3 linked regions of the Homo sapiens genome follow. The protein of the gene in region 3 interacts with the protein of the main gene of each other region in a biochemical or structural test. Each region holds a gene or a part of one and is shown on either strand. Other genes may lie near its edges. The genes, in order: TEC, CAPN5 and FBXO7.

Evidence for each region.
Region 1: of the proteins of FBXO7 (region 3) and TEC, one has a biochemical effect on the other in vitro, tested with the Homo sapiens proteins (one large-scale study listed by BioGRID).
Region 2: of the proteins of FBXO7 (region 3) and CAPN5, one has a biochemical effect on the other in vitro, tested with the Homo sapiens proteins (one large-scale study listed by BioGRID).

Annotation. Positions count from the first base shown.
Region 1 is NC_000004.12:48,259,787-48,263,439, forward strand, and holds part of TEC (tyrosine-protein kinase Tec), read right to left. Parts: intron 1-3,653.
Region 2 is NC_000011.10:77,083,905-77,087,557, reverse strand, and holds part of CAPN5 (calpain-5), read right to left. Parts: intron 2,707-3,653; coding exon of another isoform or gene 2,672-2,706; coding exon 2,507-2,671; intron 1-2,506.
Region 3 is NC_000022.11:32,488,232-32,491,884, forward strand, and holds part of FBXO7 (F-box only protein 7), read left to right. Parts: intron 1-2,854; coding exon 2,855-2,950; intron 2,951-3,653. UniProt on the Homo sapiens protein: Substrate recognition component of a SCF (SKP1-CUL1-F-box protein) E3 ubiquitin-protein ligase complex which mediates the ubiquitination and subsequent proteasomal degradation of target proteins and plays a role in several biological processes such as cell cycle, cell proliferation, or maintenance of chromosome stability.

The sequences.
Region 1 (3,653 bases), on a different chromosome or scaffold from region 3:
CAAGAAACTACATTAATGCAAAATTCTCTAACATTGCTGGTTGCCTTGCACACCTTACTGGGCCATGATTACTCAAGCAGTAGAGAAATGGCACAATGGATAGGAAGGCTGGAGTTTCCTGAGGACATAAGATGCCTTCCCGGGTCACACAAAGTTTCATAAACTCTAGACCAGGTACTGAGGTCAAATGTCATTGCACAGTTACATAACAACTCTTCCATGTTTTGTTACTGATCCTTGGAAAGTTTTCCTATAGACATCCAATAAGATGAAATGAGGCTCTACACATTACCAACAAGAACACAGTCTCTGCAAATGACCTGTCAGGTTCTTCTAGTTTTATCTGACCTATAACTGGGTACATAACATGGCCTCAAGCATTCTGGCTCTTCTTGTCCTCACATAACAGAGACACTGTAATTCTAAAAGGTCAAAAAAGAGAAAAAATGGAAACTTCACATTGCTAGTGAGTTATTTTATGACCTTCTAAAACTGATGAATAAAAGCTAGAAATCAGTCAGGTGTGGTGGCTCACACCTGTAATCCTAGAACTTTGGGAGGCCGAGGTGGGAGAATCACTTGAGGCCAGGAGTTCAAGACCAACCTGGCCAACATAGCAAGGCCTCATCGCTGCTTAATTTTCGTTTCAATGAGCTGGATGCAGTCATATGCATCTGCAATCCTAGCTACTCAGGAGGCTGAAGCCAGAGGCTGAAGCTCAAACCTTCTATTTAAGCCCAGGAGTTCGAGGCTGCAGTAATCTATGGTGATGGCACCACTGTGCTCCAGCCTAAGCAACAGAGCAAGACTCTGTCTCTAAAACAAAAAAAAAGAAAAAAAAAATCTAAGTGTCCAACAACTGGGGAGTGGCTCAAAATACCACCGTATGCTAACATGACAGAATTACCCAAAGAAAATTATGCATGGACTAATTACAACGTCATAAAGTAACTACCTGTGTATAAATAAAGATTGTAGAATTTGGAGTTACATAAACAGTTGTAACATAATGCTCCTTAATTATTTTCTAGAACATTGCTAAAGATTTATTAAAAGTCAGCTGGTAATAGAGATGACTGGAAGGGGATTCACAAAGATTCTCTCTGGAATGGTTTTAGGGTTATTTTTAATTTCTTCTTTGTAAGCTTCAGTATTGTTTACATCTTCTAACAAGGAATATATAAAACTCTACAAAATGACAATTTTTTTTTACTGATGGCAAGGAGAGTCCAAGGAGCACACCAGGTGTCTGAGAACCTCGGTGGCACCCAAAGATCAAACTTTTGCCTGGGGGAAGCAAGATGGTGTGTCAACAGCTCTGAGCCTAAAAAATGTCTTCTGGCTAGGACTCCAGAACTTATGAACAAGAATTATTTCATGCAATGCTTCTATAACTGGTTTAAGTATGTGACAAAGACACTGACAATCCTTAAAAAAATTCAAAAGCATGTATACCTAAATTTACATGTCTGACAGCATTCAAACCCAGTTAAATTGTATTTCTGTTTCCCTGCATGGTTGAAGGATCAAGCATTTTTATCACCCAAGCAGGAAAATGAAGAAATCAACTGCCTTCTACAAATCAAAAATAACCCTAATAGTAAAAACTAACTTTGTTGCATGCTTAAATCATATTGGCAGAAAAATGAAACTTTAAATCACTCTTGTAAGAAAAAAAGCCAGTTTCATTTTTGGGGCAGTCATATGGAAATCCCACAAGTCGTGGTTGAAACATAATATTGAGGAGTATGTGAGGACATTAAGAGTTTCTAAGGAAATAGTAACAAAAGATATCATTGGAATTCCATGAAGGATAAGAGAAGAAAAATCAAAGGTTTTTCCTACTAAATCACATTATAATGTCACCAAAATTAAAAATAAAAGGAGTAGGATACTTGACAGGGAGTTTCACCTTGTAAGTATCTCATATAGTACATGACAAGTTAAAGTCTGTCGCTTTGATACTCTATTGTAAGCATTTCAAGGTTAAAAGCTTTAACCTTGAAAAACAAATGACATATAGTTACAAAAGGCAAAAGTATATATTGTAGAAATCCAAACAAAAGTGTTCCTCCTTTAGAAACATAAAACTGATGAGATAACATAATGAATACTTACTTCCCTCCCTCCTCCAAAAGCCATTCTTTGTAGCCATAAAAACTAAGATAATCATAACACTATGCTAAGAAAAAATATACAGATGGAAAATAATGATAATAATGTATGTTGTCCTTTCAAGAATGTTTTCAGTGAAGAATATTTCTAAATAATACAAGAAACAATACACTTGAGAAAACTTAAATTGAATGCTCTATATTTCAATCCATATATAGACAAGTGATGTGAAAGTCTAATCAAGAATTTAGAGAATTTAGATTGTTGAGTACAACTTGGGTAATTGTGACCAAATGTCTCTTTTTTTTTTTTTGAGACGGAGTCTTGCTCTGTTGCCCAGGCTGGAGTGCAGTGGTGCGATCTCAGCTAACTGCAACCTCTGCTACCTGAGTTCAAGAGATTCTCCTGCCTCAGCCTCCCGAGTAGCTGGAATTACAGGCACGTGCCACCAGGCCCACCTAATTTTTGTATTTTTAGTAAAGATGGGGTTTCACCATATTGGCCAGGCTGGTCTTGAACTCCTGACTTCAAGTGATCCACCTGCCTCAGCCTTCCAAAGTGCTAGGATTACAGCCATGAGCCACCACTCTTGGCCCAAATATCATTTTTTCTTAACTATAAAGTGTCCAAAATTGTCTGGAAAATTCATTCAGTATATTAAGTACTTGCTTGGTACTATGCTTTCCCTAGGAAAGAACTTCTGTGAAGACCCAGTACATTACAGAAAAACTATACTGCCTGGAAAAGGGAGGTTCCAATGACTTCAAAGACTTCGTTTAGAAAAGGGAAGGATGCTTGTGGAAGCACAGTGGGAGGAATGAGCTCTGCAGTATCCCTACTAGCCAAGCTTTTGTTCACAATGGTGCCTAGTGGTACCTGCTGAAAAAGCCTTTTTAACCATCTGTCATCCTCCAAAGATAAAGTAATTGTTGCACCCACTCCATTGTCACAATCGCCAGCACTCCTGTTTTCTGTATTGCCAATGCATAGCTGCCATCATGGGAAGATCGAGCTTTGCTTTTTCTGCACAGATAAGATGGCTTAGGAACAATTATCCTCCTACTTTTGTGGAAACTGACTCTTGTCATCATGTGTGTAACCATAAAGAATGTTGATGTTACAAAGCAACTGGGAGAGCATGCTGGAAGTTCACAGCCCATTAAGGGAGCCTGAGGAATGACTCAACTGATGAAATGACGTTGGGAAAGTCGTGATCATCCACAAACGGCAGGGTACATCAGCCCAGCCAGAAACAGGAACTTGGTTCACATTCCAAGGAGGGCACAAGTGGAAAGGGAAGTAAGGGTGCTGCTGCTGGTAAGGCAGTTGTGTGATAAACTGGCCTCCAGAAGGAAATAATGATAACTTCCATTGAGGCCACATGGCCATCAATGACACCAATCCCATCTTTCAGATTAAAATAATATTGGACTTAATAGAAGCTGCACTTCACTGAAAGGTAAAACATTCAGAGGTCAAGATGGCAGAAAGAGTCATCCTACACAAAGTGAATTCAAGAAACAGGAACAATAGGCCAG
Region 2 (3,653 bases), on a different chromosome or scaffold from region 3:
GCTCAAAAACTAGCCTCTGCATTCCATTTGAGAGGCAGCGAGGCTGGGAGGCTGGCTGAGGAGACCCTCTAAGAACAGAGCAGCCACTATAAGGACCAACTCAGAGAAGGAGCTGGAGGGGATGGACGGGCATGCAGCACGACTTCTCATTTGTAAACAGGCGGTCACAGGTAAGACTCCATCGAAACAAGGCTGCCTGAGGCCAAAGTTCCCTCTCACTGGCAAGCAGCTGGGCGTTAATGATAACCCACTGGGCTGGGCCCGCCAAGCAAGCTGAGCCAAGCCTGCTTGACTTCCTGCTCCACAAACCTCCCATCCCGTTAGTGGGGCAGGGGCTGCCTGTCCTGCAGGCTTGTGGCTAGCCAGTAGGCAGTGCCTACACACATGGTTTAGGAAATCCAGGCAGTGCCGTGGACCATCCACCCCAGCCTGGTCTGAGTCCCCATCACTGCTGCCCCTTGGGCCCCACTCACACAGCTCTCTGAACACCAGCCACCATACGCTCTCTGTCACCTGCCCCCACATCCAGGGCAGGGCAGCTCTGCGTGTCTAGAAAGGGCAGGGCACCAAGTGAGCCAGCGAGGAAGGCAACGAGAGGAGGAGGTGTGGCATGGCTCCTGAACCCACAAGGAAAGGGGCTCAGAAAGGGCAGCTGACTCCCCTGGGTCACGCAGCAGGAGAGTACCAAGCGGGCCAACCTGGCGTCTCCTCCTCTCACCGCAGCAAGCCCAGCCTGCTCCCGCCAGGCCTCACCAGCCTCTTTTCGGAGCCACGGACCTAAAATGTCTGGGCAATGGCCAGAGGGCAGGAGGGAGTCAGGACGGGGGTAGCCAGGGGATGGAGTGGGAGGAGGGCGAAGAGCTCGAGTGCCCAGCCCTCCTCCCCACAGCCAAGGCCTCACAAAGGCCCTTTGAGGCCAAGGCCTCCCTCCCCACCTACTTGACAAAGGAAGAGAGGAAGGCGTGGGAGAGGGGGCCCAAGAGGCAGAACTCTTGTGGCCAGGCCAGGAGGCTCCTGGGCCTTCCAGAGAGTCAGTACAGGGCCAGAGATTCTGTTACAGCTCTTGGGACTGAGGTCAAGGGCACCAGGGGCCCTTTATCTGGTGCCAGGAAGGTGGGGTGCAGGGAGGCAGGACTCTTCAACTACCCCTGCTAGCAGCTCATGGGTGATCTAGGACACGCACCTTCCTCTCTTGGCCTCAGTTTCTCTGCCACTCAAGAGTCCCAGTCCAAGGACATCTACGGGGTATTTTCAGTCAGAAGGGACTCGAGATCATAGCCTGGGAGGGAAACTAGAAAACTACATTTCATTTTCCCAAAAAGCCCAGGGGATCAGGAGGAACTTTGGAAAATGCAAATCTGACCCTGTTACAGGCTGCTGAAAGCCTTTGCCTTCGCGGGACCTCACTACTCACAGAGCAAGGTCGAGCATCTTGGCCCCAGATCTGCCACCCCAGGCATGGCTCTCCACAGGCCCACATGAGCCTGAGGGGCTCCCACCTGTGAGTTTCTATTCCCTCTGCCTTTTCCCACCTGGCCCTTTGGGCAAAAACCTCATCACCCTTCACCTCCAAGACACCTCCTCTGATTACTGGGCTGCGGGAGTCACAGCCTCCTCCCAGCCTGGAGCATCCTTGAGACAGCAGCATGGTCTCCCGCATTGTGAGGGGACGACCCTCAGTGTCACTAGCACAGCCCTGGAGGCCAGGGAGAGTAACCTCCTGCAGCCTCCCCTCCACCCAGGCCACCAGGGACCCCATTCTGCAGGACCCACAGACAAGCAGCGAACCCCTCCCCAGCCCACCCTCACACCCAGGAATCGGGGTTCAAGGGGATGAAATCACACCAGGAGGCCAAACATTTCTGTGTAACACACTCTAGCCTCAGGGACCAAAAGGAGTGGTCGGAGAGACGCCACCTGTTCATCATTATCAGTATCCATGGTCCCGTACTGGCTGCCAGGCTGTGAGTGGAATTTTGCATGCATTACCTCTTTTAATTCTCACAACCACTCTATGAGGTAGGTACTACTATCTTTTTACAATTATTATTATTATTGATTAATCATCATAATAAATACTTTTCATTTCTACCACAAATGACTATTTCAAAATCATGATGATAACAATCAGGAAAGTAAATTCCTTACATTTGGATGTCAATCTACATTTTATCAAAAATGGTCATATCCACATCACCCCATTTTTATTCCAAAAATGACCCTCAGCGGGGCTGAGGTTACTGCCCCATTTTTCCTGTGAGGAAGTGGAGGCCCTGAGAGGGTGAAGGCCTGGCTGGGCCTCAACCAATCCAGTGGTGGCCACAGGATTACAGCCCATTCTCCAAGCTCCCCATCCGGATCAAATCCCACCGTTTCAGCACCCTCACTTTCTCAGCAGCCTGGGGCCAGGGATGCCTCCTCCCACCACCCCGATGTCCCTGCAGGCCCAGCCTTGTGGGTGGGCCTGGGCCCGCTCACCCAGCTCCAGCTGGGACCAGACACTGACCTTGGGTCGCTTCCACCTGACGGCGGGCCCCGGCGTGCCCTTATAGTAGAGTGAGTCGTCAGTGGCGGGGAAGAGGGGGTCCTCGAAGAGCACCTTCCTGCGCCGGCAGTCCCGCCTCAGGGCTGAGTAGTTCTGGTCCTCATAGGGCTTCACACACGAGAACATGGTGGCTGCTGCCCCAGGGAGGGGAGGGGGAACACCTGGACAGGAAGGCAAGAAGACGGTCACTCACAGAGTCCCTGGGTCCCTGATGTGCCCTGTGAAGCGGACATCATCAGCCCCATGGCACAGGCACGGAAGGCTCAGCGAGGCGTGGAGCCTACCCAAGGTCACACAGCTGGTATACAGCAGAGTGGGACAGACACCGACCGGCCTGACTCCATAGACTGGATTCTCTCGTTTCTGAAGCTCAGAGGCGATACCAGGCCCACAGGCCACACAGAGCTCAGGCCTGGCCCACACCGCACCTACCTCCCTGCCTTCCTTTGTTTGACCAGCCTTCCCTACACCTCCTCAGACGGAATCAGACCAGTGGCCAGCCCTGCCAGCTCCCTGGCTGGTGTGTCTCCCACAGGAAAGCAGCGTGTGCCTCTGGGTTTCCCTCCCCACCTCTAGAGAGTGGCACATTTCTGCCTGGTGTGGGAAAACCTTGCCCCAGGTACCCCTCTCAGCATCATTCATTCATTCTCTCCGGTCCTCCCCGCACCATGCTGCCTTCCTCACAGCATCTTGGGAATAGGCGTCTCTAATTCTGTAGAGAGCAGGCCCATGGCTCCTTAACCCTCCCTCCATTCCCCAGGGGCCCAGGTGGGCCCAGCCAAGCACCCTGAACTTTGCACCAATGTGCTGACCAAGTGCAAGGGACACAGACTGGACCAACATGGTCAGGGAAGGCCTCTGGGAGTGGAGGGCAGGGCAGGGCAAGGAACAGCGGCTGGCAGGGCCTGCATATCAGGTGCGCTGAGAGATGCTCGGACGGCCAAGCACCTGAGTGACCACCCCATTTATGATCCACGCCCCCATCCCTCAAACTCCATCTGGGCTGCGGTGCAGCTCCACAGTCCCCGATCTACTCTTCCTGGGGCCTGCCCAGGGTAACAGTGCAATCCTTTTGGGGTAAAGGCCACAATTTCCAGCCCAGCCCTGA
Region 3 (3,653 bases):
GATTATTGGAGGAAAAACTACAATCAAAATGTTTGTTTAAACCTATATAAATTTGATGGCTATTTTATACAGATTGATACTTTACCAAAGGTTTGCATTCTAGGTAAGGTTTTGCTTAAACTCTATAAAATTATTAATAGATACAAAGAAGACAGGTTTTCCCTTTTATCATTTTTCAGTTAAACCAAACTGTGAGAGGCAGTTATAGGTGGTTGGAGCAGAAGAGATAAGGTGGAGAGGGGAACTGACATTTTTTAAGTGCCTGTTTCATTCTGTACTTGTGCCTGTACATATGTTATTCCATTTAATCTTCTTAGTAAACTTAGGAGGGTTTTAAGAGCCTAGTGGGAATGTTGTGGTACAATGGGAAGATGGCATTTATAGCAGTCCTTTAGGAAAGGCTGGCTAGATTGACATTGTTGCTTTGAAGGCCTAAAGGCTTATTCTTGTTCATTCCTAGGGGAGATCAGCCCTGAGAGATTGACTTATACTAACTAAAACTGACAGGAAAAGGAGATAGCAGAATACATATTTATAACGGTCTCTGATTGGATGTAGAGTCAGAAATTGGGAATTAGCTGAATTGAATTTTTTTTTTGAGACGGAGTCTTGCTCTTTCGCCAGGCTGGAGTGCCGTGGCGCTATCTCGGCTCACTTCAACTTCCACCTCCTGGGTTCAAGCAATTCTTCTGCCTCAGCCTCCTGAGTAGATGGACTACAGGCGCACACCACCACGCCCAGCCAATTTTTTTTTATTTTTAGTAGAGACAGGGTATCACCATATTGGCCAGGCTGGTCTCGAACTCCTGACCTTGTGATCTGCCCGCCTCGGCCTCCCAAAGTGCTGGGATTACAGGCATGAGCCACTGCGCCCGACCGAGTTGAACATTTAATGTCAGACTAGGCCAGAGTTTCTCAATCTTTTTATTCTCACTTCCCAAAGGAGCCGTTGGAGATTTTCCCCTCAATCTCTCTCCTTCATGAAATTTCATACCACAAATATAGTATGTTTTATTTATGTACTGTGACCCTTTGAAGGATCACAAACCAATATAATAGTTTTTCTTTTTAACCCGTCAAGGACCAGTTTTTGCCCCTGTTGGAAATGCATAAACTGGACTGATGAATTGGTATAGATGGCTTTTATCATGAGGATCAGAAAAACTTGAAATTCCTTGGCTACGACACTCCATATTTATCACCGTATAGGGAGGACCTTGTTATGGGGAGTAGAAACACTCTACACTTTACAGCAGTAGAGGTTTTATGCCCATTTTATAGATCAGGAAACAGATCTAGAGGAGGCTCACTTACTTAAGGGTCACAGAGCCAATAAATGGTGAAATACAGGATAGGAATAGATTTGGCTGACTCCCAGCCTTTTAAAACAACTTTTACAGGAATGTAGCTCAGATTGTTATTCTTTATCTGGTTTCTCTTAAATAAAGAAAAATGAAATGGAAGGGAGGAGGAACATTAAATACTGTTAAATTACAAGTTTATGGACTGTTATAATGAAGTATTTTTAATAAAGTCTTATGTTGAGTAGGAATATGCTGCTCATTTGGCAAGTCATTTTAATGAATTTTTACTGTGGTTCATAGCACCTAGTAACTATAACTAGGCACTGTTATTTATCCTTTTATTTATAAGTTCCTAATTAAATAGTTACATACCAGGTTGCTGAAGGAAAACATTCATTTAAAGAAAATCAATTTTCACATTTGAAAAAAGCCCTTGAGCCAAATTGATTTTAAAGAATGATATCTTGACAGCAAATTTCAACTCAAGATTGCAAGTCACACAACAAAGATTTAGACATTAGCTGCATATCTCTTTCCTTCTTCTTATCGATCCTGTTATACTGAGTGTTTTATTTGTTATAGATAGTGAAATACATAAATATGAAATGGGGAAGGAGCAAGCATAAATTGCCTACTGATACCCTAGGCACTGCTCGTGGAGCTTTCAATTATAACAACGCTTATCTGGTGTAGTGGTGGTGTCTCCTTTAAACAGTTGAGCAAAAAGGTGAGGATCAGAGGGGCAGGTTATTTGTCCAAGGCTATACACTTGGTAAATAGCAAAACAAGTGGGAACCTCGGCTGCAGTTTGCTAGTGCGTCCGTACTTTACTATGAGTCACCTGGGGATCTTATTAAAATATAGGTTCTGATTTGGTAGGTCTGTGGGGGCCTGAGATTCAGTAGTTCTAAACAGTTCCAGGTATTGTCAGTTCTGGTGATCTGTCGCCCACATGTTGAGTAGCAGTGTGGTGACTAAAAATGAGTGCTTTTGAGCCACACGGACTTGGGTTTGTGCACTGTTCTGCCACTAACCATGGGGCCTTGGACAGGCTTTCTGTACCTTGACCTGTTTTTAAAATGGAGATAGTAATTAGGAAAGAACTTCTGATGTGAAAGCTTGAAAAACGCTTGACACAGGTGCTGATACATAGTCATCATGCGATAAATGCTATTAATTTACCAGGTTCTAAGCGTTAACAGGAGCAGTTCTCCACTGTATCCTTAGTGCCCAGAACAGATTGATAGCTATCAGGAAATCTTCGTATGTATGAATCTCTCACAAGTCTTTTCTACAACTGCAGCCTATGAGCTAGAGAGGTTGGGCACAGCTCTACTAATTTGATATCATGGAATTTTTAGCTTTTATATCTAAGATTCAGTTTCATCAAGTCTTGCACTGTACTTCTTCCATGAGGGAATTTGGTTCATGCTTATCTTTGTGAATTATTTGTGAATATTTATTCACCATGTTGATTGGGTTTGGCAGAAATAGAGGACAGTTTTTTCACTTGATTTTGGGTTTTGATTTTACTTTAAAAAATATTCTAGGGGAAAATGTAGCCAACATATACAAAGATCTTCAGAAACTCTCTCGCCTCTTTAAAGACCAGCTGGTGTATCCTCTTCTGGCTTTTACCCGACAAGGTAAGAGATGAAATACTGTCACAATTTAAATGACTGTAAAGAATAGTAAGTATACTTAATATTCTTGGTGAGTATGACATCTGACTGCCCTCTTTTCTGCTCCTGGCGAAATGTTCCTCTTCTAAGACTAAGCTTAATATTCCTTAAGTGCTATTTACTTTATCTTTGTATCTCCATGCCATTTTGTACATATTTTTATTGTAGTCTCTTTTCCATGGACTATAATTGTTGATATGATTTCTTTCCACCTAAGGTTGGGAATACCTTGAAGGTAGGGAATATATCTTACTTTTGTATTCTTGTGGTCTAGCATGAGGTCAGGTACATAATAGATGCTCTTTCTCTCTGTGTAGATACATATATATATGTCTATATAGACATATATTTAGATATATATGTCTATATAGACATATATTTAGATATATATGTCTATATAGACATATATAAATAATACATGGTCTGTAATTGGATCTAAGTTTTTTTTTTTAAACCATTTATTGGAGGCTCTTTGCAGGCACTTAGTTGGATATTTCACATGCATTCTTATTTACTGCTAATGACTTCGAAGTAAATTATGTGGTACTTATTTTATAGATGATGAAATCATAATTCAATAAGGTTTATAATTCACTCGAGATCCTTATATTAGCTTCTCATTTTTTTGCAGTTAAAAAAATTAAAATCTCAGTGTCTTACAGTGAAA